5 separate regions of the Homo sapiens genome follow, and all the other regions are linked to region 1. The links come from fine-mapping of genetic effects on gene expression. A gene starts in region 1. Each other region holds a variant in brackets. All regions are shown on one strand. Distances are between the middles of the regions.

Region 1 (5,097 bases):
CCGCTCACCTGTCCAACCGCGCTTCTGCAGGCCCGGGAGGCGATCCTCCAGAGCGTCCTCCGGTCCTCCGGTTTGCACCTGCCCAGGTACGCCCGGGTCACTCCCCTAGCTCCGCCTTCCCTTCTGCGGCCCCGCCATTGGAAATGCCTTTCCTTCAGCACCCAGACTTCTGGATGCTGCCTTCATGGGCCTTGGGGGCGGGCTCACACCCCTCCATCCCAGGATGCCTCCCTGACTACTCTGAGCACATCTCCAAGACCTCCTCCGTTGGTCCTTAGCACCCCTCCCGTGGGTTCTCAGTTCAGCCCCCCACCCCCGCTCCACCCCCCAGGGTGATCTTTCATCTGTGCACAAATGCGTCTGGAGTTTACATCCTCTCGCCAAACTGTGGAGTCAGAGCCTTGCATTTCCGCCACCTGCCCGCTTTGTGCCTGTAACTGCACAAGGGCCTGCAAACCTCGCCACTCCCCACCAATAGGCAAGTCCTTGTTTACGAGGAAACTGAGGCTTGGGGATGACGTGGAATCTGCCCAAGGTCACAGCAGGAACATCTGAGCCTTGCCCTGCTCAGGTGCTGTGATGCACTGTGGCAGAGCCCTTCTGAAGCGTGTGCAGTCAACCCTTTGGCTTACATGGGGAAACTGAGGCTCGGAGAGGTATGTTGCTTGCCCTCAGCCACACAGCCAGGGCCCTGTGCCCTCCACCACATCCTTCTTCCCAAGTCTGAGGGCCCTCTAGATCACCTGCTGACCCTCTTAATTCATAGGAAAGGCCGAGGGGCCAGAAAGGGCCAGAGGCCAGAATTGGAACCTGGGTCTCCTGACTCCCAGCCATTGCTGTGGGATCCTCTCCAACTCCCGGGCAGCCTCAGTCCGGGAAGCCGGGATCGGGCCGTAGGTGAGGCCAGCGGTTGTCCTGGAAGGAAAAGGCGGCTGGGGACAAACAGCCGGTGGTTTGTGAACCCAGCGCCTGGCGGGTGGCAGTCTCCTCGGATGGCACCGGGCCACAGGGTCCCCCGCTCCGGGGTCCAGGGAGTGCCCCAGCCCAGGCTGGACGCGGCCCCCACCCCCAACCAGTCTGCCCCGCCAGTGCCGGACGCGTAGAGGGATCGGGAGAGGGACGAAGATGGGGCGACAGACTGGCAGCCAGTGGGGGAGAGACGGAGACGGTGCCAGGGAACAGCGCGGCGGCCAAGGCGCCCCGGGAGCCGGAAAACAGCTTTGGGGAGAAGCGGGGGCGGGGAACGGGGGTCTGTCTGGAGCTGGGGGAGCAGAAAAAGATGGGGACGCAGAAAGGGGCGGAGGAGGGGCGGCCGGCGGGCTCGGCGGGGCGGCGGGAGGGGAGCGCGGCGTCGGGCAGTGTGGGCGCCTCCCGGTCAGAAGCCACAATAGCAGCTCGTTCGCCGCGCAGATTAAGGACTTTGTCAATTACCTCCGAAGGCCGCTCCGGGCGGATTAAATGCTTTTAAAAGTGCTGCTGGTGGGAAGGGGCAACTAAGAAGCCCCCTCCTGGCACAAATCCCCTCCCGGCGGAGGAGAAGGCGGGGGCTGGGACCACGCGGGGCGCGCCGGGGAGCGCGGGCGATCGGCCGGGAGCGCGGCCGAGCGCGGAGCGGCTGGTACTCGCGACCACAGCGCCGGCGGCTGTGGCAGTGGTGGGGACCCCCATTTCGCCCACGGGCCGCCCGGGCAAGGGGGCGTCGTGTGGGCTTTCCGACCGCGGGCGCGAGGGCACGGGTCTGCGGACGCGGACTGGGACGCCCACCGGCCAGGCTCACGCGTCGGGGTCCGGCGCAGGGAGGTCCCCGGGGGCTGGAGACCCCACAGCTGGGCGCACTTGCCCCGGGACCTGGACCCAGACCTCGGGGGCCCGCAGGGGGCGCACCCCACCGAAACTGCCCCCGGCGCAGCCTGGGTCTTGGGGCGAGCCCTGCGTCCTGAGCCGGGAGGGAGCCGGAAGGAGCGCCGCGCCACTCCCCGGAGACGCCGAACCGGCCGGCGGGGGCGCCCTCGGGGCCCGCCCCGCGCATGGTGACTTGTGTGAGTCCGGTCCGGGAGGAAGTTTGTGCAGAGGCGCCGCCGGGGGGCTCTCAGGCCCCTCCGGGAGCCAGCAGGAGCCGGGCCGCCCGCGGCTGTTTGCTGCCCTCCGGCCGGCCGCGTTATCTGGGGGCCAGTTCGGCCTCCTTTCCCTAGGTCTTTTCGGAGGCGGAGTTTAGTATCCAAGTCCGCGGGTGTGAGCGCGCGCGTGTGTGTGAGTGTGTCGGGGGAGGCCGAGGGGAGCAATAAAAAGCAAAGAGAGTCCGAGACCAGAAAAGATGCGGAGATTGAGAAGGAGGGAGGAGGGACGAGGGAGGAGAGAGAGGAGCGCGCCGGGGAGGCGCCGGAGCCGGGAGCGGGGACGGCGCGCAGCGCGAGCGGCGGGCGTTGGGCTGGCGGCTTTCGCGCTCCCGCTCCTGCTCCCGCCCGCACACAGCGGCGCGCTCATCCTCACACGCCCGCCCGCTCCCGGGCCGCCCCGGCGCGGGGCACAGAGGCGGGGACCCGGCGGACAGAGCGCGCCCCGCGCCCGCGCCCGCGCCCACCCCGTCTCCTTTGCGCTCCGCAGCGGCGCGCCTCGCCCGGCGCCCCCGCCAGTCCTGCCGGAAGATGGTCAACGACCGGTGGAAGACCATGGGCGGCGCTGCCCAACTTGAGGACCGGCCGCGCGACAAGCCGCAGGTACGCTCGGGCGCTGGGACACGGGGCCTGGGCGGCTGGCCAGGCGGTGGCCGCTCGGGCCGGCGGGGCGAGCACCCATTGCGGGGGCTGGAGTTTGGGGCGCACCCCTTCGAGGCTCCGGAGGCCCGGGCCGGGATGGGGACCCTCCTCTCCTCCTCCCCGAGCCGAGGCTTGAACTCGAGGTTCGGTGGGGGCGGCACCCCTGCAGGAGCCACGCGCGCTGCGGGCCAGGTCTCCCGCGTCCCCGCACCCCCAGCAGCCCCCTGGTGCACGCGGGTGCAGAGGGAGGCGGGGACTTACAGTTCGCTGTGTGTCCACAGACAAATCAGCCCCGTTGCTGAGTCTCCGTTTCCTCACCTCTACAATGGGCATCTTAACTACCCACAGAATCTCCACTCTGGGCGCTACCCTGTGCCAGGCACCTGGTCCTGAACCTGACCCCCTGAATCTCCTCTGCATCCTTCCCTTTAGCCAGGGCCCTGCATACAGTAGGGGATCAATAAAGATTCATCTCCTGCAGGAACGCTGGGTATTGTGATTTTCTGACTTTAAGACAAGGAAAGCAGGGCTCAGAGATGGTTGGCTCCTGCCTGAGGCCACGCAGCTCTGTCGGGATTTGAACCCTTGTCTGTGTGCTCCAGGGCTGACTCATTCCTCCCTTCCTGCTGCCTCTTCAGGGGCAGTGGAGGTGGGGCTTGGAGGGTGCCCAGGGCTGTGCGGTGGAAGCGGGTGAGGGCAGAACACCTGGGCTGGCCAGCAAGGGGGCTGGAGTCCCGAAGCCAAGGCGGAGGGGAGCCCCAGGGCTGCCCCAGGCTGGGCTGCCAAGGGACTGGGGCAGGCAGGCGAAAACGAGGAGGCCGCTCGCTCACCAAGGAGAGGAGAGAATAGGGCTGCCCATTTTAAATTTTAAATTTCTTCCAGACAGATGTCATTGGGGAAGGAACAGTTCGTGCTTGCAGCTGCAGGAGGGGGCGGCACGGGCAGCCCTTGGTGGTCCCTTCCTCTCAGGAGCTGCAACCTGCTCATTCTTCCTGGTGTGACACTGCCGTGGCACAAGGGCCCAGCCCTCTGCGGTTTGCAAAGCCCCTTCCCATTCATCGGCACTACCTCACTTCTCCAAACAGGCTGGGGGCCAGTGCGTTCCCACATCACAGACCAGGGATCAGAGAGGTTCGGAACATGCCCAAGTCACACAGCACGTTGGCAAGAGAGTGGGGATTCAAACTCTGGTCTAACCACACACCTATCCCACTGCTTCTCCGGGGTGGTCGCGCCCCTCTTTTAGGTCAGGTCTGCACCTAAGCCACCCCAAAATAACAAGTCCCCTCCTGCTGAGATCTGACTTCTCCCCCTTAGCAAGAACTGTCTTAACTTCTAGACCTGTCCTCCAAGGCCATCCCTAACCTGGCATACTGTGCCTTCCCATTGGTCCCTTACAGGCAGTGACTGTTTGTTATTTGCCAACCCTGGGCCCCACACCACGCCGCTCCATTTCCAGATCTTTTCTGTGTCATCTTGTTTGCTTCCCCAGCCTTACACAAACACACACACACACACACACACCCCTTCACTCAGGGACACCCTACATATACTCAAAATCAAGCTCAAATGCTGCCACCTCCTCCAGGAAGACTTCCTGATGCCCTGTGGCTATGTCTCTAAGTTCTAGTAGTGTTTAGCCTGTGCCACTCAGCTGCCTTGTCCTGGGCCCCTCCTGCATCAGGAGATCCCTTTGGACACACCCTCCTCTGGAGCCCATCTCTGCATCTCTCCCTGGGCCCAAGCTCCATTCTTTCCAGGCAGCTCAGGTCAGGCATTGAGAGCGTTTGCTGAATGGCACTGCATGACGCTTCGGCCAGGAAGAGCCTCAGGAGACGGCCAGCAGGCACTGGTCTGTCTCAAGGGGAGGTGCCTTCTGGGGAATGTGTTTGAAATGTGGCTTCAAGGCCTCCAGGCCGGGCCCCGCCTTCCTCTGCTGCTCCCTGGGGGCACAGCTTTCAGCCCCCACACAGCCCAGCTGTCTGCCCCTTGGCATTGGAGGAAGCTCGAGGGCTGTTGCTCCAAGAGCCTGGGCCAATAGCAAGCACCCGCTTCCCCTCCCCGCCCGTTTGGTGACCCAGCATGTAGACAGGCTGTTCCCTGTGCCAGCTCTGGGCTTGTTTGAAGCTTCAGACAAGAGGCAAGGCCTTTCCTGTGGCCACTGTCAGAAGAAAGAGAGAACACTGCTTGCCCTGGTTCCCTTGGGCCTGCCCTCTCCTGGGCCAGCCTTCTCTCCTCCCTTGTGGCCAGGTTTGTCTCACCCACTGACATGCTGTGTGGCCCTGGGTAAGTTACTCCTCCTCTCTGGGCCTGGGCTTCACCATCTGTAAAGTGGGAACAG
Region 2 (5,097 bases), 33 kb after region 1:
TCCCCAAGCTGGGGGTAAAGATAAGGACAAGGCGGCAGGGCCAAGGCATGCCCTCGCCACCACCCACCCCCTGGAGCAGCGGTGATGCCCGTGCTCATGGTATCTTAATTGAAATCTATCAGCAGCTGCAGATGATGCGGGAGGAAGCATTTAAGCAGGTCCTCATTCCAGCATCCTGCAGACGAGCCCTGACAGGAATGTCAACAGCGCCAGTCCCTCCTCTGCCGCACCACCCTCCCCATCCCCTCTCAATGAGTGCTTTGTCTTTTCCTATCGAGTCATGGAAGCTCTCTATATATTAAGGTTACCGATCATTTGTCCAACACATGATAGGTATTAACTTCTGGCCATTTGTCTTTCAGCTTTTTCTTTTTCTTTTGTGGGGTCATGTTATTATTTATTTCCTAGAAATTTAAGATGTTTATGCACTCAGTTCTGCCACCCTTTTCTTTGTATCTTTTCTGGGTTTTAGCCCCTGCTTTCCTTTCCTTCCCTTCCTAGTTTTATTTTTTTTTTAAGTCTCCTCTATTTTTTCTTCTGTTTTTCTTTTCTTTCTTTTTTTTTTTTTTTTTGAGACAGAGTCTCACTCTGTAGTTCAGGCTGGAGTACAGTGGCATGATATCAGCTCACTGCAACCTCCACCTCCCGGGTTCAAGCGATTCTCCTGCCTCAGCCTCCCAAGTAGCTGGGATTACAGGCGCCCGCCACCACGCCCGGCTAATTTTTGTATTTTCAGTACAGACAGGGGTTTCACCATATTGGCTAGGCTGGTCTCGAACTCCTGACCTCGTGATCTGCCCGTCTCGGCCTCCCAAAGTGCTGGAATTACAGGCGTAAGCCACCGCGCCCAGGCTTTTCTTCTGTTTTTCTAGTGTTGTTTTAGGTTGACAGCTTTAGTCCAGCTGGAAGTCCACTGGGGTGGACATGTGAAGTTTAGGGTCTTAGTGGTTTCCTGTCTGTTTCAAGCCATCAGCCCTGTTTCTTGCTCTTGGCGATTTGAGCCGGGAGCTGGTGAAGGAGTTGGATCAGGGGCCCAGGGAATCTGGGAAGAACAGCTAACGTGGCTGGGAGCGGTCCTGGAAGGCCAGGGAAAAGCTGGGAGAGCTGGAGAAAGCCAAAGAGCAAGGGCAGGGAGGCGAGGGAGGGAGGAGGTGGCGTGGACTGGAGGAAGGACGGAGAGGACCCAGGCCCCAGGTCCCCACCCACCCCTCCCTCGGGCGTCCTGCCTAGCAGCCCCCGGGACACCGCTCATGAATTGTCACTCAACCCAGAGGAGTGGCTAATGGTGGCCTTTGGGTGCCAATGGCCAATTAGTGGTGGGAAAAGGAATCTTCCAGCATCCCCGGGGGGCCGGTCTCCCTCTCTCCCTATTCCTGCATCATCTGATTTGTTCTGGGTAAGGTCTGAATAGCAGCAGGGATTTGGGGCCCTTCTGCCTGGGTTCAAATCCCAGCAATGCCACTCAGCAGCCGCGTGACCTGGGCCAGCTCCTTAACCTCCCTGGGCCTCATTTTCCTCCCCTATAAAATAGGTAGTAATAGGCACTCCTTCCCCGGGGCCTTGGGAAGCAGCAGTCAGCACCTGGATAATGTGTGCAGCGGGCCAGCCCTGCCAGAAGAGCCGCCCAGGGATTCTGTAATTAAATTAGACTCACTCTAATTCCACTGGATTCACTCATCTGCACGAAGGGCTGAGAACGGTGCTGGGCCCTTGCGAGTGCCGTCCAGGTGGCGGCTGTTGTCATGATTACCTCCCACCTGCCCTTTTGTGTATGACACTCTCCTGGCCCCTCACATCAGCCCTGCGCCAGCCGAGCTGGGGCCCAGAGAGGGAGAGCGGCTGCCCTGAGACTCAGCAGCAGGAGAGTCAGGGAGGTGGGGACCCTGGGTGAGACCCTAGGCTGTCAAAGCCCATGCCCTGGCAGGTCCTTGGGGAGGAACGTGGGTCGTGCGGTCAGCTTTGCTGTGACTCCTCCCACAGT[A/G]GCTGCTCCTGGTCCCTGGACCTGGTGACTGGGACCAAAGGCTTCTTGTCCGGGCGGGATGGGGGAGGATCCGCACAGCCTCCAGCCAGCACACACTGACCCCGGGAGGTGCGGAGCCGGGGAGAGGCAGGCAGGAGGGAGAAGCGGATGGAATACCACTCGCTGCTACTAACTTGTGAAACATTTCATTAAATGCCCTCTTAATCAAGAGTAACCACACCAGCAGTGAAGCATCTTGGGAGTCTGAGCACGTATGTGTATGGTAGGGGAGGCCTGGCATGAGACCCCGGGGATGGGCAGGGCAGAGTTGAGGTGGGGCGGGGACAGCAGGAGGGAGAGAGTAGGATGGGGGCACAGAGCCGGCCTAGAGGGGTGAGGGTGCCGCCAACTCCCTCCCATCCACTAAGCCAGCGCTGGGTAAGCACCATTGTGCCAGGCCCCACCCCAGGCACTGGGGTCAGCAGTGGCTAGGTCGGACATGCCACTGTCACGGGAATTCCGCACTGGTGGGGAAACTGACAAGATAGGCAGCCGGGACCCTGAAAGATAAATACCCACAGGGGCACATGTGTTGGCAGAGGAGGTCCTCAACGCCGACAGGAGGTCAGGCAGCCTTCCAGAAATGAATAGAAGGTAACCAAGTGAGGAGGAGTAGGGACAAGCATCCTGGCAGAGGGAACAGCATGTGCAAAGGCCCAGAGGCCAGGTATAGGAAAATGCGAACACAGATCCTGTCTGTCTGGCTCTGGCTGGAGTCTGGGTAAGGGTGCTGTCACCCCCACCTCCTCCCGCCTCCTGCAGTCTTCCCACCAGCTCAGAGCCCCAACGTTTGAAAAGCATCACAGCTCCACTTAAAGGGAACAGAGAAAACCAAACATGAAAACTGTCGGTCCTCAGTGGCTTGCCCAACACAGGCCTGCAGGAAGAAGGAAGTAGCCCAGGGCTGATTGCACGCACTTGGTGGTTGTCCCTTTCTGTCCCCAACTGCATGAGCTCAGCTGTCATTTATCATTTCTCCCTGGGGAGTCGCTTCCTACGCCCCTCAGCTTCTCCCACCATTTTCCCCCCAACTTCAGGGCTCAAGAGGATCCACGCCCTGACCACACAGGCTGCCTACGAGCTGCACGTGGACCTGGAGGACTTTGAGAATGGCACGGCCTATGCCCGCTACGGGAGCTTCGGCGTGGGCTTGTTCTCCGTGGACCCTGAGGAAGACGGGTACCCGCTCACCGTGGCTGACTATTCCGGCACTGCAGGTGAGGCTCCAGCTGTGGCAGGGATGGGGAAGGGGGGCGGCCTGGGAGGATGGAGGACGGAGGAGGTCCTGCCCTCCAAAATGATCAAGGCTAATGTATTTTTCCCCCTTTGAAAGTAATCAGGTTTTTGAAAAATAACAAATATTGATAAACTACCAACCCCACATCACAATCAGAGGCCTGAAACCAATCTAAATTTTTTTTAAGTAATAAATTTTTCAAATTGGAAGAGTAAACAAGACAGAAAAGGGAAAATTTTCTTCCTTACCAAGGATCCCTCAGTCCTTGTCTTCATCAGTTGATTCAGTTGCATGTCATAAAAGATGAGCTTCTGCGAATCTTCTGTTCGTTTTTTCATAATAGTGTTGATGATGCCCTTCGGCCCTCTGGGGTCAGGGTCAAGGCTGCTTGCCTCCTCCTCCAAGTCCTGCTTGGTCCTCACCCCTGCAAGGCGAAGCCAGCAGAGCCTGGACTGTTTTCCCGTTTTGCAGATAAAGAAACTGAGCCCAGAGCCAGGAATCAGGAGACCCGGGGTTCGGGTCCGCTGGGTCTCTAAAGTGTGGTGGCTGGACCCCCCTGGGCTGGGTTTCCCCTCTCAGGCCGAGGAGCGGGGAGGCAGGAGAGGGAATGTGGAAAAGCTGGGGGGAGGGATAGAGACCGCCTAGACCCAGGGGCAGCCCCAGGCACGCCCGAGAAGGGACTGCGTGCGTGTGAGCTGCATGGACACACCCGGGTGTGGAGGGGCAGGTGCGCTTGCACGCGTGCACAGCAGTATGTGTGAGAGCACGTGCGTACGTGTATGCACTCACGTCCAGGTGCACGTGCAGTGTCTCGGTGTCTGCTCACACATGCAACACCAGTGGGTGTACCCGTGCCCCCCGTGCCCACACCTGTGTGCACCCCTGCGCAGGCGACTCCCTCCTGAAGCACAGCGGCATGAGGTTCACCACCAAGGACCGTGACAGCGACCATTCAGAGAACAACTGTGCCGCCTTCTACCGCGGTGCCTGGTGGTACCGCAACTGCCACACGTCCAACCTCAATGGGCAGTACCTGCGCGGTGCGCACGCCTCCTATGCCGACGGCGTGGAGTGGTCCTCCTGGACCGGCTGGCAGTACTCACTCAAGTTCTCTGAGATGAAGATCCGGCCGGTCCGGGAGGACCGCTAGACTGGTGCACCTTGTCCTTGGCCCTGCTGGTCCCTGTCGCCCCATCCCCGACCCCACCTCACTCTTTCGTGAATGTTCTCCACCCACCTGTGCCTGGCGGACCCACTCTCCAGTAGGGAGGGGCCGGGCCATCCCTGACACGAAGCTCCCTGGGCCGGTGAAGTCACACATCGCCTTCTCGCCGTCCCCACCCCCTCCATTTGGCAGCTCACTGATCTCTTGCCTCTGCTGATGGGGGCTGGCAAACTTGACGACCCCAACTCCTGCCTGCCCCCACTGTGACTCCGGTGCTGTTTGCCGTCCCCTGGCCAGGATGGTGGAGTCTGCCCCAGGCACCCTCTGCCCTGCCCGGCCAAATACCCGGCATTATGGGGACAGAGAGCAGGGGGCAGACAGCACCCCTGGAGTCCTCCTAGCAGATCGTGGGGAACGTCAGGTCTCTCTGAGGTCAGGTCTGAGGCCAGTATCCTCCAGCCCTCCCAATGCCAACCCCCACCCCGTTTCCCTGGTGCCCAGAGAACCCACCTCTCCCCCAAGGGCCTCAGCCTGGCTGTGGGCTGGGTGGCCCCATCCTACCAGGCCCTGAGGTCAGGATGGGGAGCTGCTGCCTTTGGGGACCCACGCTCCAAGGCTGAGACCAGTTCCCTGGAGGCCACCCACCCTGTGCCCCGGCAGGCCTGGGGTCTGCAG
Region 3 (5,097 bases), 550 kb after region 1:
AGTCCCCAGTGACAGGCACAGCACCAAAGCCAACAGTCCGTCCTCAGGCCTCGTCTCCTGTGGCCCAGTTGGTCTCTCCTTCCCTGAAACCTGACTTCTCCTGCATCTCCTCCTACCCCCACCACCTCCCCTTCCCTGGGTCCCTGAGACCCATCCTAGCATTAGCATCTGGGGCGCAGTCCACACTCGCTGTGGGGTGGGGAGTGGGTGTTGCAGCCAGTCCTGGCTTCCAGCACCTCCCATTTGCTGACAATCCCCACATGTCCACTCTGAGTGGAATAGCCAAGGCCTGTCCACCGTCTCCCCTACCTGAGGGTGTGGCCAGAGCCGTGGAGGAGGGTGCGCTGGGAGAGCGGGAGGGGCAGGCCGTCCTTGAGCCAGCTCACGTGGATGGGCGGGGAGCCCCGCACAGGGCACACCATGGTCACCAGCTCCCCAGGCCTGCTCACCAGGGTCCCCGAGCCGTCTGCTCCCTGCTTGATGGTGGGAGGAACTGAGGGTGGGTAGAAAAAAGAGGGGTAGTGCGGAGGTCTTGGGAGGAAGGTGGGCTCCTCCCAGGGAAATCCCAGAAGTGGAGACCTGGACTTCTGCCGCCAGCAACCACAGTGGTCCCTTGTGAAGGATGAGGCCCGCTGCATGGGGGACACAGCCACTCCCTGACTCTCTTCTCACCTCCCGAATCTCCGCTATACCCTGGGCTGGCACTATTGTCCTCTAGTTTGAGGATGGGCCATGGAGGCCCAGGGAAGTGAGACCCGTGGCCCAGGACACAGTGTGGGCTTTGCTCACATGTCGCCTTATCTCCCGTGCCCAGGCCCACGCATCACCCTCCAGATGCCCTGGGGCTCCTCACCCAGCACATTCACCGTGTGCAGCCTGGCGTCCTCCCCGGCTGGGTTGTGGGCCACGCAGGTGTAGGCACCCGCGTCCGAGGCCCTCAGGCCTTTTAGCACCAGGGAGCCGCCGTCCAGGTAGAACCTGCCACAGGGAAGGAGGGCCCAGGGCAGAGGCGTAAGGGAACATGGGCCCTACCGCCTCTGGGGAGGGCATGGGCCAAGTCTTACCGGAGGTGGGGGCCCATGTCCTGGCCCAGCGGGCTGCCGTCCTTCAGCCAGGCCACGTCCGGCGGCGGCTGCCCATCGGCCTCACAGTCCAGCCGCACCTCCTGCCCTTCCAAGACATGGTGCTCCCGCGCCACGCCCGAGCTCCGGATCCGGGGGGCCACTGAGGCAGGGGTGCAGTGAGGCCCTGGGTGATGGCAGGGGCTGCCATGGGAGTGGGACAGGAGGGTGCAGGCGCAGACCTACCCAGCACTGCTACCACGAAGTCCTTGCGGGCCTCAGCCTGGGTGTTCTCAGCCACGCACGTGTAGGTGCCCGCCTGGGCCGGTTGCAGGCGGCTCAGCTGGAGGCGGCCCCCCCGGGAGACCACACCGTGCACCGCGCTGCTCTCTGTGGGACAGAGGGGTCCCCTGAATCCCCCAGCCCCTTCTTGTGCTCATAGGAAACTGAGCCCCACAGAGGCAGAGGCGCCTTCTTATATGTCCCCACCTTCCCCAGCCCAGTCTCTGTTCCTTAGAAGCCTTCCTCATTTCCTTCCACTTGAGACAGCTCTTCCCAAGGGACCCCCTCCCTTCAGTGTCCAGGATTTGCTCTCAGGCCCAGCTCTCAGCTCCCATCCTCTCCCTCCCCGCCCTGCCCCTCTACCCCCATCAATCAAGGTTTCTGCTTTTGCTTTCTCCCTCCATGCCCTGCCCCTCTACCCCTGTCTATCAAGGTTTCTGCTCAAGTCAAACCAGCCCCTCACTGACCCTACACAGGTCACACTGGGGCTTCCCCCTGGGCCTCTGCTCGGGCTCCTCCCACTCCCGGCCTTCAGGCCTCCCCCTTCATTCTCTCCAGCCACACCCCTGCCCAAAGCCATCTCTCACGGCCCCAGCCCAGGACGATCTCCTTGCCCAGATCCTCATGGATCCAGCCAGCCTCTCAACACAAAGACACGAGCAACTGCCCCATGTCCAGCGCAGAGCCTGGGAATCAAGATGAGGGCAGCTCAGTCCCTGTCCTCAAGGAGTTCACAATGTATCGGGGGTGGGGGCCATGAAACAAGGGGACCCAGTGCTGACAAGCCCTGTGAGCCCCTGATGGAGCCGGGGAACTTGGGGGACAGGAAGGGTGGGGGAGGGCTTCCAGAGGTGGTGAATCTCCGCTGAGACGTGAATGTTGAGCAGTAGTCAGCCGGGGGGAGCAGAGGTGACCACGGGAGCCTGGGTGGGTATTCCAGGCAGGGAACACATGTGCCAAGAGCTGGACGCAAAGGGAGGTGGGGCCTGCAGCCACCTGACCCGCGAGAGGCGATGACACAGGTCCACACAGAAACACGAACACGGAGGTTCACAGCAGCACTGAGCATCTCAGCCAAAAGATGCAGCCACCCCAAATGCCCATCAACTGACCAGTGGATGCACAACACGCGACACAGCCACACAATGGAATATTCAGCCACAGAAGGGAATGAAGAGAAAAATTTAATTTTTAAAAATAAGGAAGCACTGGCTGGGCACGGTGGCTCATGCCTATAATCCCAGCACTGTGGGAGGCCGAGGCAGGTGGATCACCTGAGGTCAGGAGTTCAAGACCAGCCTGACCAACATGGTGGAACCCCATCTCTACTAAAAATACAAACATTAGCTGGGCGTGGTGGTGCGAGCCTGTAATCCCAGCTACTCGGGAGGCTGAGGCAGGAGAATCGCTTCAACCCAGGAGGCAGAGGTTGCAGTGAGCCGAGATTGTGGCACTGCACCCCAGCCTGGGTAACAGAGCGAGACCCCGTCTCAAAAAAAAAAAAAAGAATGAAGTACTGATCCATGCTACAACACGGATGAAACTTGAAAACACGCTAAGTGGAAGAAGCCAGACACAAAAGGCCACACACTCTATGATGCCATTAATGTGAAATGCCCAGAACAGGCCAATCCACAGAGACAGAAAGCAGATTTGTGGTTTCCTGGGTCTGGGGGAAGAAGAAATGGGG[A/G]GAAAACGGGGAGTGATTGCTAATGGATACGGGTGTCCTTTTGGTGATAAAAATGTTCTAAATTTGATTGTGGTGATGGTCACACAACTCTGTGACTGTACTACAAATCACTGAATTGGATGTTTTCAGTGGGTGAATTATATAGTGTGTGAATTATATCCCAATAAAGCTGTTACTGAGAGAGAGGGGCAGGTTCGAGGAGCCAGCACAGCCACGTTTAGCGCATGGAGGGGCAGGGAGAGGTGGCTGGCAGTGCCGGCCCCTGCTGTGGACGGATTTCCACCAGACAAGGGACCAGCTCCGAGCTGTACCTTCAGACCTTTCTGCCCCACGTGGAGCCTGCGTGAGAGGCACAGTGGGCCCAGGAGACCATGTGGGGCTTCTGCCGTCATGCGGAGGAACGGTGGGCACAGCAGCGGCCAGAATGGGGAGGCCTGGATGGGGGATGGGGTTGACCAACGGCCCAGCTAGGACCGAGCTGAGTCACCACCAAGGAGCAGCTCTGGGGGCCAATGCTGAGCCCAGTGTCAGCCAGTGGGCTTTCCATGGCCCTCAGCACCTGCCCTGCGCAATGGAGAGCCCACGTCTGCTGTCTCATGGGAGCTGACTGAGGACGTGGATGCAAAGGAGCTTCCAAACCCTCACAGGAGACGCTCTTTATGTTTGGATTCCAAGGGCCAATAAACAACGCTTCACTCAAACACAAATGGTGGGGGGGGGGGCAACACGGCACTGCCAGTCTCTGGTTTTGCCAAGATCATCAACAACCAATAACTTCCTTCGTCCGCTTCTGCTGTCATCTTATTAAAGAAAGGAATGCTTTACGCGAAACAGACAAGGACAGATGTGCTCACCCACAGGCATCCTGTCCTTCAGCCAAGTGACCGTGGGTGCAGGGACCCCGGACACATCACAGGTCAGGACCAGGGGGCTCCCAGCCACCTGGCTCACTGTCTCTGTCTTGGGGTTCTCAAATGTTGGGGGCACTGCAGGAAGAAAGCCAGACTGTCAGAATTCTGAGACTCTTCCCCAATTTCCTTCCCCTCAGGCAGATCAGGGAGGCCTAAGAAGCCCTTCCTGGTAGTTAGGAGTTCCCATTCTATGTTTTATTCACAAATGTAAATAGAACCAGTGCCTGGCTATTTTAAAGCATACAAAGCAAAGCTCCAGCGGGGTCTCCTTAGCCCAAGGATGGTAAATGGGAGGCTCACTCACCCACAGTCCTTAACCTGTGCCAGGGCAGACATCACTAATCGATCCCAACACTCTCTCCTGCTCCGCCAGGATGAAGTCACACACCCCAGGCAGACACCACCAGCGGAACAGAGTCAACCAGGCTCAAGATGAAATGCCTTTGCCCTCAGGGACCAGATATTCCCCCTTTCCACTGTTCATCAATGTAGCCATCAGAAAGGGCTGGGAGCTTTGAGCAGCAAGCCTGGTGTCAGTCCCTTTCTTGTTACTTTATTTTTTATTTTTTGTAGATTCAAGCTTCTCACTATGTCGCCCAGTCTGATCTCAAACTCCTGGGCTCAAGTGATCATCCCTGCCTCAGCCTTTCAAAGTGCTGGGATTACAGGCATGAGCCCCTGCACTCCATCTTGTCAGTCCTTTTCAACGATTGTGTTGTGTATGGCTCAGGGTTGCATGTGCCCACCGCTCACCTGGTTGGGAGGCTACTGGCTTTGGCATCTGTGGCAGATGGCTGGTGTCCCCTCAGCCCGTTCTTCCCACTGTGCATAGCAGAGTTTTAGCTGAGCCCACGATCACTCTAGCAGAAACTACATTTCCCAGTGTCCCCTGCAGCCAGCTGCCTGAGCGCTCACTAATGGAATACACGCAGAAGGGACAGGTGCAACTTCTGTATGAAATAAATGCTTGCCCACCACTTCTGCTCTTTTCTGCTTCCTGTGGGCCAGGACACGATGCCGTGTCCCAGTTTCAACCATATGCACAAGAACAACACCCTAAGAAATGGAAGATCAACAGGAGGGAAGGAACCCGGGTCCCTTAACTACCGCATGGAGCCGAGCTACCCACCAGCCTAGACACCCACCTCTGGGC
Region 4 (5,097 bases), 55 kb before region 1:
ACAGAGATGAAAGGCCTGTTAATTAAATCTGGGGAGATCGGCCAGGGCCCTGCTGATCTCTCCTGACAGCTCTGCAGCCTCGTTGGAGCCCAGCGTTGGGGGCACAGCGCAGAGGGGAAAGGCAGCTCCCCCTGCCCCCACCCTGCAGCTTTGGAGCCCAGACTCACTGTGGTATCTTGGGTGGGGCTCTGCCCTTCTAGGGCGGCTCAGTTCCCCATGTGGACAGCAAGAGCATTGGTCTAGGTGGTTCCCAGGATGCCAGGTCTGGCTCAGAGGCTCTGTTAAGCCTGTGCTCTCTGTCCGCATGCCTGGGTCTCGATCTTCCCTTCTGTTCGGTGGGGAGACATCACTTGCTCTGCAGGCAGGCTTCAAGGGCAGGAAGTGAAAACTGGGAGGTCTGCCAAGGGCTTGTGGACAACTGTGGAAGAAAGAAGTTAGCAACTGGCGACATCAGCCCCCAGGATCCCACTGCTAGGCCCACGCCCATCTGTCTGTATTGCAGCATATCCCTGGGCACTGCCCTGCCCCTCTGAGCAAGGACAAGGTCACCCCCTGAGAGGCCTCCTGGGAGTCAGACCTGGGCTGAGTGCACCACCTCCACAAGTAGTTACTGTTATTCTCCCCATATTGCAGACAGGGAAACTGAGGCCCAGCCAGAGACAGCTCCTTGCCCAGGACCACTCTGCTCGTCAGCAACAGAGAGCCGTGTACACACCCCAGTGTGCCCGGCCCCAGAGCCTGTGCGCCTTTCCACTTTGCTCTCCATTCATTCATTCATCCATCCATTCATTCATTCTATTACTTTAGGGGACATTTGTTCTGTGCCCTCCCTGGGCTGGTTGCTGAGGTACAGGGGATAGACTGTCTGGGACCTCATGGTGCTCCCCAGAGAATCAGGAAGACAGACAGTGACCCAGGAAGCAACCTGGTGAATTAGTTAGTGACTGATCACGGTAAGAGCCGCAAAGGAAATAGACACAGGGCTGGGATGAGCTCCATGAGGGGGTGAGCAATCAGGGAGGCTTCTCAGAGGAGGTGACAGCTCACTGGAGACCTGCAAGATGAGATGGGAGGCAGGATGGAGAGGGAGCTGATGGGAGCTGACAGGGGGCCCCTCAGCTGTCACCCTCACGGAGCATCTCCTCCTACAGAGTTAACAGATTTAGACAGGCCAAGGGACATGACTGGCCTCAGGGCATGTCACTACTCAGTCTAGCAACTGTCTCAACCTCCCTGCTGTGTTCAGCCTGAGGTGGGTCTGGGCCTGGATGAGTCAGCCCTGGGCAGCCCTTCAAGTTCAGGGGGTTCAGAAGAATAAAGGATGTCCCCTTCTCGGTGGTGCAGGGGCCACAGGCTGGGCTACAAAGGAGATAAACGTGGTTATCTATCCATTCATTCATTCATTCCTTTATCCACTGGACAGATGTTTACTCAGCCCACACTCTGGGCCCTGGGCTGGACACAGGGGACAGAGTGATGAATAATGATGAAACTGTCCCTGCACTTTAGGGATCCAAGAAGCTGTTAATAACAACACAAGGCTGTAAGCACCAGGCAGTGAGAGTGGAGACCTGATGCCTAACACAGTCTGGAGAGATCAGGGAGGGCTTCCTGGAGGAGGTGGAGTCTCAGCTGAGACCTGGAGGAGAATGGAGTATCCAGGAAAAGGGGTTGGGGAAGAGCATCCCAGGCAGACAGCAGCATGTGAAAGGCTCAGAAGCGGAGGATGGGGGTGGGAGGATGGGCATTTGAGGAGTGGGGAGGGTGGAAAAGGGGAGCCAAGAAGGGCCCAGGACATCCTGCTGGAGAGCCTGGACTTCACCGGGGGGCCATGGGGAGCTGTGGGAAGATTTTCTCTTGGGATGTGCAGGGAGATTGGCCCGCTGGGGGTGGTGTGGAAGCAGAAATGGTTTGGCAGCTGCTGCAGGGACCCGAGGAGAATGAGGTGGTAGCCTAAACAGGAGCAGGGAGGAGCTGGGGTCTGCAGGACCCGGGAAGCAAACTGTGGCCCCTGGGCATGGGGGTATCTGTGCCAGAAGGCACTGGGGACAGAAAATCACCCAGTTGGGCTGGCGGGGTGGTGAGCAAAGCTGAGGCTGGCTCTGGGTCTCTGGCTGGGCCCTGGGTGGGCGTGCTGTGCTCAGACAGGGTCGCCGGTCCAGGAGCAGGCCTGGGGGAGATGGGGAAGCCGTTGTCAGTGCTGAAGTTCTGTGCCCAGAGGAACCCAGGAGGCCAGACTTCTCCTGGCTCGGCCCCTCCCACGCTGTGTGTCCTTGGGCAGGTCCCTTCCCCTCTCTGGGCCTCAGGGTTCCCATCTGTATGATAAAGGGAAGCAAAGGATGTCCTCTGAGGCCTGCCTAGAGTGGCTTCCCTTTCCCAAGGCTCTCCCAGGGGTCCAGGCTGTCCCCCCACCAGTGAGAGGCTCCAGCCCCAGCCTCTGGCCCCTGCTGGCCCCCACTGCCACTTCCTCTGGGGACCCAGGGTCCCCAGCAGCTTCCGTTGGGCCTGGCACTTCCCTATAAAATGCTGGCAGCCACGTCCACACTGATACAGCACCCCCTGCCCAGTGCCCAGATACGGCCCCCACAGCTCACAGTGCCACGTGTCACCCACAGATGGGCCCGGCCAGGGATCCAGGAACCCATCCCGTGGGTGGATTAAACACCTCAGGCCCCTACAGTGGGCTTTGTTGTACCTCTGACCCCACCACAGA[C/G]GAGGAGCCCTTTGAGGGCAGGCAGGGAGTGGGTCTGACTCCTCCCCTGGGCAGGTGGCAGGGTAGATGCTCACAAAAGGCAGAGGGGATGAATGAAAGCTGACAAATGAATGGGAAGTGGACGGAAGAATGGACAGAAAAGGAATGAATGAGTGAGAGTGAATGAATGATGGTGAATCAATGAAGCGGGAGTCAGGGGTGAATGTGTGCTGCTTCAAATGAGAGCCTTTCCTCCCTGGGTTCTCCAGCGGCCTCTGCCCCAGCTCTGCGGGCCTCACTGTCCCTACAGGAGGCACTACTTGATTGCCCCCTACCCAGTTCTGGTTTCAGTGACCACACCTGCCATCCTGTCCCCTTGCCCACTGGGCTGGCTGCAGCCACACGGGCCTCCTTCCCGATCACACAGAGCACGTTTCCACCTCGGGGCCTTTGCACTTGCTGCTCCTCGTGCCTGGAACGCTCTTCCCACACTTTCTTCTGCATCCCTTTATGGAGAGGCCGTCCCAGACCCTCCTGCTGACCTTCCCCAGGACTCCCCTGCCACTCTGCGGGTTTTCCCCCCTAGCCCTCACCGCACCTGCTGGGCATGTTTTTGCTTGTCTGTTTGTGGCCCGTCTGCCCCCTCAGGCCATGAGCTCGGCCTCGCTTGCTGCTGTGCGGCTGCAGGAGGAAGACACTGGTCTTCGCCAGCAGTTCTCACTGCAGGGAGGCTGTCCTTAAACAATAATTTCGTTTCCGAGCTCTTTCTGCTGAGGACAAGGAAACAGCAATTATAAGTCACCAGAACCCAGTTATAACCCAAGTGTAAGTCAGCAGAACCCATCCAGGGACGGGAGGCACATGCACAGCTCCGGCTGCCCTAGGGCCTGGCCATCTGAGCGCCACGTGCACTGAGCCTCACCTGAGCAGGACCCCAGTCCGCACCAGGGGCCTGGCACGACCCTGCAGGGCCCCCATTCCCCTCGGGTAAAGGGGATCTCTTGAGCTGAAGCTCCTAAGACTCCAGAACTCACGGGCCTCTTCTAGACCCTCAGGCATCCCTGGCCCCCCCATCCCAGGACTTTGCACCCGCGGGTCCTGAAATGCCCTTCTGCCTCTTCTCGCCAGGGTGGGGTGGCGGCTGACTCCTGCTCCTCCTCTAGGCCTGGGGTGATGCCACTTCCTCAGGGAAGCAGTCCCTGGTGCCCCAACCCTGTGACACCTCCCCTGCTTCCAACTTTGTGGCATTTCTCACACTTGTCATTAAGTGAGTATTTCATGTCCCTCTTTCCCACTTGACTGTCAGCTCCTGGGGACAAGAATCCTGGGGCTTCCTGCTGTGTCCTTGACATACACCCAGGAAGGATGTGCACTAGGTGCTCAATAAATAGTGCAGAATGAAAGAACAAGTGAATGGGTGAGTGTGTGAAAGGAGGGAGGGAGGGCAGAAAGCAGGCAGAAGGCTGGGAGAAAGGAACTGGCCAGCGAAGCTCGGGGAGGGGGGTGGCTGTTCTCCCAGGACTGATGGCTTTTAAGCGGGGGAGTGAAGGCCAAGGGCAGGGAAGGAGCCAGCAGGCCGGTGACAGGGAAGTGATCTGCGAGTGCCTCGCCCTTCACGTGGCTTTATTTTGAAAACGTGAACTTTACAAATGTCAGGGAAAGGCGGGATTCTCCGCCTGGGACCGCCAGGAGCCGATTAGCATTCCCGGCGATGCGCAAATGGGGCCCTGCATAGGCCGCGGGAAATTTCTGCCGCCTGCTGGGGCTGATGTGAAGGCCAGGCGAGGGGGCTCAGAAAATAAAACTGTAAAGCTGCCAAGTCTATGCCTGCCCAGGAGGCACGGCCTGGTGGAGGCCCCTGGGGGACAGAGAGGTGGATTCAGTATAACCCCCAACCCTCCGCGGGACAGGGTAAAAATGGGGGCCACTCAGAGTAGGTGGGGTTAGGGGGCACCCCCCGCTGTGTCAGAATCAGAGAGGTGACCCCTCCTGCTCACCCCCATTGGGCCAGGCTCCGTCCCCACCACCTGCCATACAAACCATCCAGATTCATCCTCAAGATGATCTTATGAGGGAGGGGCGTTGCCCCCAGGCTGCAGATGAGAACACTGAGGCTCAGGGAAGCAGAGGGCTTTGCCTGAGATCGCTGATCCTGAGAGGGTCAGGCAGGATTGAAACCCAGTTCTCCAACTCTCTTAGCAGCCTCCTGGCCCTGTCCTTCCCCACTTCTCCCAGCTTCCAGGACAAACCCCATTTAGGACAGTCCACAGCCTCAGTGTCCGGCTAGGTCTCCCCCTGCTTGGGGAGCTATGTGAGGACTGCCAGAGCTTTCACATGCACGTCGCTCCCTCTGCTCGGAGCACCCTCCCCACTGCAGCCCCTTGTCTTCCCCTTCAGGTCTCCGC
Region 5 (5,097 bases), 23 kb after region 1:
GCACATTTAATTCTCATCAAAACTTTGTGGGTTGAGGCTTTTATAATCCTAGCTTTACAGATGAGGAAACTGAAGCCTGGGGTTTGGAGGAATGTGCCAGGGTGGGAGCTGCTCTGCCCTATGGCTGCTGGCTTGTGCGTCGTCTCTCATGGGGCTGTGAGCTTTGAGGGCCAAGGTCATCCCTGTGAGCCCCGAGCACACACGGGGTGCTGTGCAGGAGCCCTTGTTTTGCAGGGGAGAAGCCACGTATCCTGTTGGCTGGAGTCTGGGTAGAACTCAGGTCTCCTGGGTGCCAGCCCAGGGAGCTCCCTGGGACTGAGCGTGCACTCTCATCCCCACTCCTCTGGCCATCTCAGCCCTGCGCACCTGGGTTGCCCACTCCTCCAAGCCTCAGTCTTCTCATCTGCCTAATGGGAGCACCAGTCGTCCCTCCAGGGCTGTGGCGGGGAAGGCCGTGGTCATCCTCTACGGCACTGGCCGGGTGCTAGGGTGACCACAGAGCCCAGCTCAGTGCTCAGGACGCTAGCTGCATGTTCTGGGCACAGTGGCAAAGCAGCAGCTGGTTGGTCAGGGTCTGTCTGCAGAGGCAGCCCTGGGCGGGATGCAACCTGCGGAGTGTAAGGCTGCAGCGGCCCAGAGGCATCTCCGCCTCCCTCGGTCCCCAGGCCCCATCTGACAACACAGGGCCGTCGGTGGCTGCTGCTGTCTTCCTTCCTCCGCGTCCAGAGCTGTCACTCCTTCCTCCATGTCCAGAGCCGTCACTCCTTCCTTTGAACCCGCCCAGCACCATCTGCAGGACCATGTGGGCCCAGCTCTCCCTTGGCAGAGCCCCTCTAAGCGGCACTTCCAAGGTGCGCCGGGCGGCGGGCTTCTGAGAATCCGCACCAAGAAAACACTCTCTGTCTGTCTTCCCACTCGTGGCATCTGCCCAAGAGGCTGCGGCTGCGGCGAGTGTTTCTACTCAATCGTTTTCCAGCCGGGACCCAAGAGAGACGCCCCCCCGGAGCTGGACCAATTCATATTTTGGCCTGAAAATGAATCAGTAATTTTTGTTTCCCTACCTTTTGCTCCCCGCCTCCATTTTGTTTTGTTTTGTTTTAAGACGAGGTCTCACTCTGTTGCCCAGGCTGGAGTGCAGTGGTGTGATCTTGGCTCGCTGCAACCTCTGCCTCCCAGGTTCAAGTGATTCTCCTGCCTCAGCCTCCCGAGTAGCTGGGATTAAAGGCGCCTGCCACCACACCCAGCTAATTTTTGTATTTTTAGTAGAGATGGGGTTTCACCATATTAGCCAGACTGGTCTCGAACTCCTGACCTCAAGTGATGTGCCTGCCTCAGCCTCCCAAAGTGCTGGGATTACAGGCGTGGGCCACCGCGCCCAGACTCCCCACCCCTTTTTGCCTAGTGGGGATTCACGTTCGGTGGGTGGGGCAGAAAGAAGGGGAAGTGGACGCCTGGATCCTTTCCTTACTTCCTCCCTCTGTCCTCCCATCCCACTGGTCCTCGCTGTGTAATTAAAGCCCTCTGTGCTTGGCCACATCCAGGCATCTGGCGTCACCAAGGTCCAGTGTCGCTGAAGCTGTTTGCCAGAAATACAAAGCCACAGCTGCAGTTTATCCTGGGCTCAGAGTCAGACTAAACATTCCCCCACACGGGAAGCTGGGAGGACCCACCTGACGATCTGGGCCGTGCTCGGCACTTGCACTAGTCAGGCCACGTTGGGCTGTCATTGGCTCGAGGTCGGGGCAGGGTTTCCAAGCCCGAGATCCTAGCACAGGGCCCGGCACAGGCAGTCACTTGGGGTGTGAACCAAGAAATCAGGACAGCCCGTGGCAAAGGCTGTCAGTGGTTCCCAAACTGCGGGCGTACTCCGTGGGTCACTGGCAAAATCAACTGAATGGGTTTGATCAACATTATTTTTTCAATCAAATAGAGTGGAATAGAACATGATAGAAAATATCAGTGCACTAAGGCTGGGCGCGGTGGCTCACGCCTATAATCCCAGCACTTTGGGAGGCCAAGGTGGGTGGATCACAAGGTCAGGTGTTCAAGACCATCCTGGCCAAGATCGTGAAAGCCCGTCTCTACTAAAAATACAAAAAACTTAGCCGGGCATGGTGGCAGGTGCCTGTAATCCCAGCTACTCAGGAGGCTGAGGCAGAGAATTGCTTGAACCTGGGAGGCAGAGGTTGCAGTGAGCTGAGATCGTGCCACCGCACTGCCTGGGTGACAGAGTAACACT[CTG/G]TGTCAAAAGAAAAAAGAAAATATCTATGCACGTCCTTCTGCATTAAGCTAAGTCTGGAGTCTGGATGCGTGTGCCTGTGTGGTGACGTCGGCTGCATCTCTCTGGGACATGGTCAGTCTGCAGGTCACTTCTTCAAGGCCAGACCACAGATGTGTCTTGGCGCCTTAAGAGCAGGTCCGCAATCCGTCACTGCACACGTTAAAAGTGCCCACGTTGGCCGACAGTTGCTGCAGTTTATTTTTTTATTTTTTTGAGACAGAGTCTCGCTCTTATCACTCAGGTTGGAGTGCAGTGGCGCGATCTCGGCTCACTGCAACCACGCCTCCTGGGTTCAAGTGATTATCCTGCCTCAGCCTCCCAAGTAGCTGGGACTACAGGCACCTGCCACTATGCCCGGCTAATTTTTGTATTTTTAGTAGAGACGGGGTTTCACCGTGTTGGCCAGGCTGGTCTCGAACTCCTGACCTCAGGAGATCTGCCTGCCTCGGCCTCCCAAAGTGCTGGGGTTACAGGCGTGAGCCACCGCTCCTGGCCAATTGCTGCAGTTTCTAAGTGGGCGTTGATTCGGGCTACCTGGACAGGAGTGCCGGCCGTATGTGGTTTCAGTGTCCTTCCTTGGGCAGAGGCAAAGGCAGGGGGCCAGGTGTGCTCACCCCAATTGATCGGCACCAAGGAGGAGCCCTGGGGGATGGTGGGGTCACTGTAACTGGCACCCAGACTGAGAGGGCAGTGGGAAAGAGGGGGCTGAGGACTGTGGGTGCAGGGACCAGCTCTTGGCACCAGAAGCCTGGGTAGAGGGGCACACTCAAGGCTACAGCCATCCTGGTCAGTGGACCTGCCACCAAGCACGAGTGTGGACATGGTGTCAGGACATTAGCCTTCAGGCGCTGGTGGCAAGGGTAGGTCCAGACTGTCGTGGGACTGAGGGCACAAGATGTAGTCGGCCCCCGCTTTTTGCTGCTCACGGCCGCCTGGCCGCTGGCCAGTGTCCGAGCTTCGGCCCTGTAAGGGTGGGGTGCCTGGGCTCGGGGAAAGGGTTTGGGGAGGGACATGGGCACGCAGAGAGCACGCAGCCCCCGAGCTGAGTCTCGACTGCCCATCATCCCATCAGCTGGGACGCAGGGGCAGGAACAGCCCCTCCTGCCACATCCTGAAGAGTCAGGGCAGGGCTGGGGTCTGGCGAGTTACGTAAATGGCAGCATTGGTTCCAGGCGTCCCAGTGGTGGGAGTGAGCGCTGGAGGCAGAGCCTGGGGGATCCTCTCGGAGGCTGTGGTCTGGGCTACCGGGGCTTCTTGCTCTCATTCTGGATGGTTCCTCTGAGCCTTTAGGAAGAGGCACAGCTGGGCACCTGTACATCAGCTCACCTGCCCCTGGTTGGGCACGCCCACTGGCTGCTGGGGTCTCCCCACTACCCGCACTGTGGCCTACTTCCCTGCATTTTCTGCCCCGCCCAGCAGGCTGACACAGGGCCCAGGACCCTGCCCCTCCTCCAGGGCCACCCTGCTGGGCAGACCTGTTCTCTCCCCAACCTCCAAGTCTGTCCTGCCTCTTGCACGGTTGGGGTCCCCTGAGCACGGGTGTCTCCTCTGTTCCTTTGCCCTAAGGTCCCCAAGGGCAGAACCGTGACCTCGTATCCACTGACTTGGCTTTTGCAGCTGGTGCCTGGCAGGAGATGCTCGGTGGAACATCTGTGTGAATGAGAGGCTGGGACAGACCCCTCGGGAGGGCTGGGGGAGGGTGGAGGCCAGAGTCTGGGAGAGGAGCAGAGGAGGCAGGAGCCCTCGCCCAGGCCTGGGCCTCAGTGCTGTGGCTAGCCACCCAGCTGGCACTTGCTGAACACCTACTATGTGCCAGGCCTGAGCTTATTCTCGGTGGATGGTCATAGCCTGGGAGGAAGGCGTGGCTGTGATCTCTGCTTTACAGACGTGGGTGCTGGGGCCTGGAGAGGTGTGGGGACTTGCCAGGGCTCTCTAAGGCAAAGCTGGGGCCCTGGAACCCAGATCCACAACCACTGGGCTCCCCTGCCTTCAGGAACTCCTTCACCACTGAGCATGCCCAGGTCCCCAGTCCCCAGGGCAGAGGCCCAGCCGACGGCCAATGCCAGCCAGGCATCCCAGGGGGCTTCGGGCCTGCCGGTCCCTCTAGCTCCCCTCCTCCTGCGGAAACAGGCTCCTACTGCCCGCTGCCTTCTCAGGGGAGTGCCTGAGCTTCTGCTAGGATTAGGCCTTTGAAAAGGTGCGTGCTCAGGGTCCCAATATGCGGCCATCAATACGGCTCTCCACCGCTCCTCAGATCTCCCTGAGCCTGATCGAATTTCCTTCCACCCCGAGCCGGTCACTCCTGAGGACTTTCAGATTTCAGAGCTGGGCCAGGTTTGAGGTAGCAAAGCACGAAAAAGGAGGTGTCATCTCCCTCCAGCTCCCTGACGTCAGAGCTGCCCAAACGCCGTGACGGACACGTCCCCGAGGGCTCAGAGCAGGGCTCAGAGCATTGGCAAACGCTCACGCGGCAGACGCCTCGGGTCAGACCGGGCATCCGGGCAGTTCCGAGCGACTGAAATCAGGCTGCTTAGTAATGAAACTGGCAGCTCGCCGGTGCCGCAGCCAGATCTCTAACACATCAGACTCTGACACAGATGGAGGCCGGCCGGGCCGCGGGCGCTGCCTCGGAGAATAAAGCAGGGAGAATAAAGGAGAATAAAGCTTGTTAAACAGAAAGAGGGCTGGGAGGGCTGGGGAGGCCGGCTGGGACGGATTGTCAGCGGATCCTGTAAATACTCCAGGCAGCTCTGGCCCGGGCCAGCGTGGTACTCATTTCAAAGCAATTTAACCGATGGGATTCCTGACTCCCAAAT

What was found. PIP is the estimated chance that this variant, and not a neighbour inherited with it, causes the effect. A credible set is the group of variants that fine-mapping cannot tell apart.
Region 2: its variant is the best candidate, but not a certain one, in a credible set for the expression of FIBCD1 in lung (TOPMed, PIP 0.85).
Region 3: its variant is the best candidate, but not a certain one, in a credible set for the expression of FIBCD1 in nucleus accumbens (GTEx, PIP 0.54).
Region 4: its variant is the best candidate, but not a certain one, in a credible set for the expression of FIBCD1 in whole blood (TOPMed, PIP 0.87).
Region 5: its variant is the best candidate, but not a certain one, in a credible set for the expression of FIBCD1 in sun-exposed skin (GTEx, PIP 0.71).

Annotation. Positions count from the first base shown.
Region 1 is chr9:130,936,156-130,941,252 of GRCh38, reverse strand. It overlaps FIBCD1 (fibrinogen C domain containing 1), which reads left to right and starts at 2,006. Exons shown (of 7, transcript NM_032843.5): 1 at 2,006-2,717. The coding sequence starts at 2,646. It overlaps FIBCD1-AS1 (FIBCD1 antisense RNA 1), which reads right to left and starts at 907. Exons shown (of 3, transcript XR_930398.3): 1 at 811-907. RefSeq lists silencers at 1-151, 1,920-2,129 and an enhancer at 1,374-2,304.
Region 2 is chr9:130,903,374-130,908,470 of GRCh38, reverse strand. FIBCD1 (fibrinogen C domain containing 1) reads left to right here. Exons shown (of 7, transcript NM_032843.5): 6 at 3,058-3,237; 7 at 4,148-5,097. The coding sequence ends at 4,407. Among named protein-coding and RNA genes, the nearest start is that of QRFP, 9.1 kb to the right of the region's middle. The variant A/G (reference allele first, on the strand shown) is at 1,982.
Region 3 is chr9:130,387,331-130,392,427 of GRCh38, reverse strand. It overlaps HMCN2 (hemicentin 2), which reads right to left. Exons shown (of 98, transcript NM_001291815.2): 62 at 3,888-4,019; 63 at 1,308-1,451; 64 at 1,065-1,224; 65 at 854-978; 66 at 310-493. Among named protein-coding and RNA genes, the nearest start is that of ASS1, 55 kb to the left of the region's middle. RefSeq lists enhancers at 2,121-2,628, 3,484-4,017. The variant A/G (reference allele first, on the strand shown) is at 3,034.
Region 4 is chr9:130,990,852-130,995,948 of GRCh38, reverse strand. No RefSeq gene overlaps it. Among named protein-coding and RNA genes, the nearest start is that of LAMC3, 16 kb to the left of the region's middle. RefSeq lists an enhancer at 305-861. The variant C/G (reference allele first, on the strand shown) is at 2,714.
Region 5 is chr9:130,913,100-130,918,196 of GRCh38, reverse strand. All of the region lies in intron 4 of FIBCD1 (fibrinogen C domain containing 1), which reads left to right. Among named protein-coding and RNA genes, the nearest start is that of QRFP, 19 kb to the right of the region's middle. RefSeq lists an enhancer at 3,200-3,892. The variant CTG/G (reference allele first, on the strand shown) is at 2,240.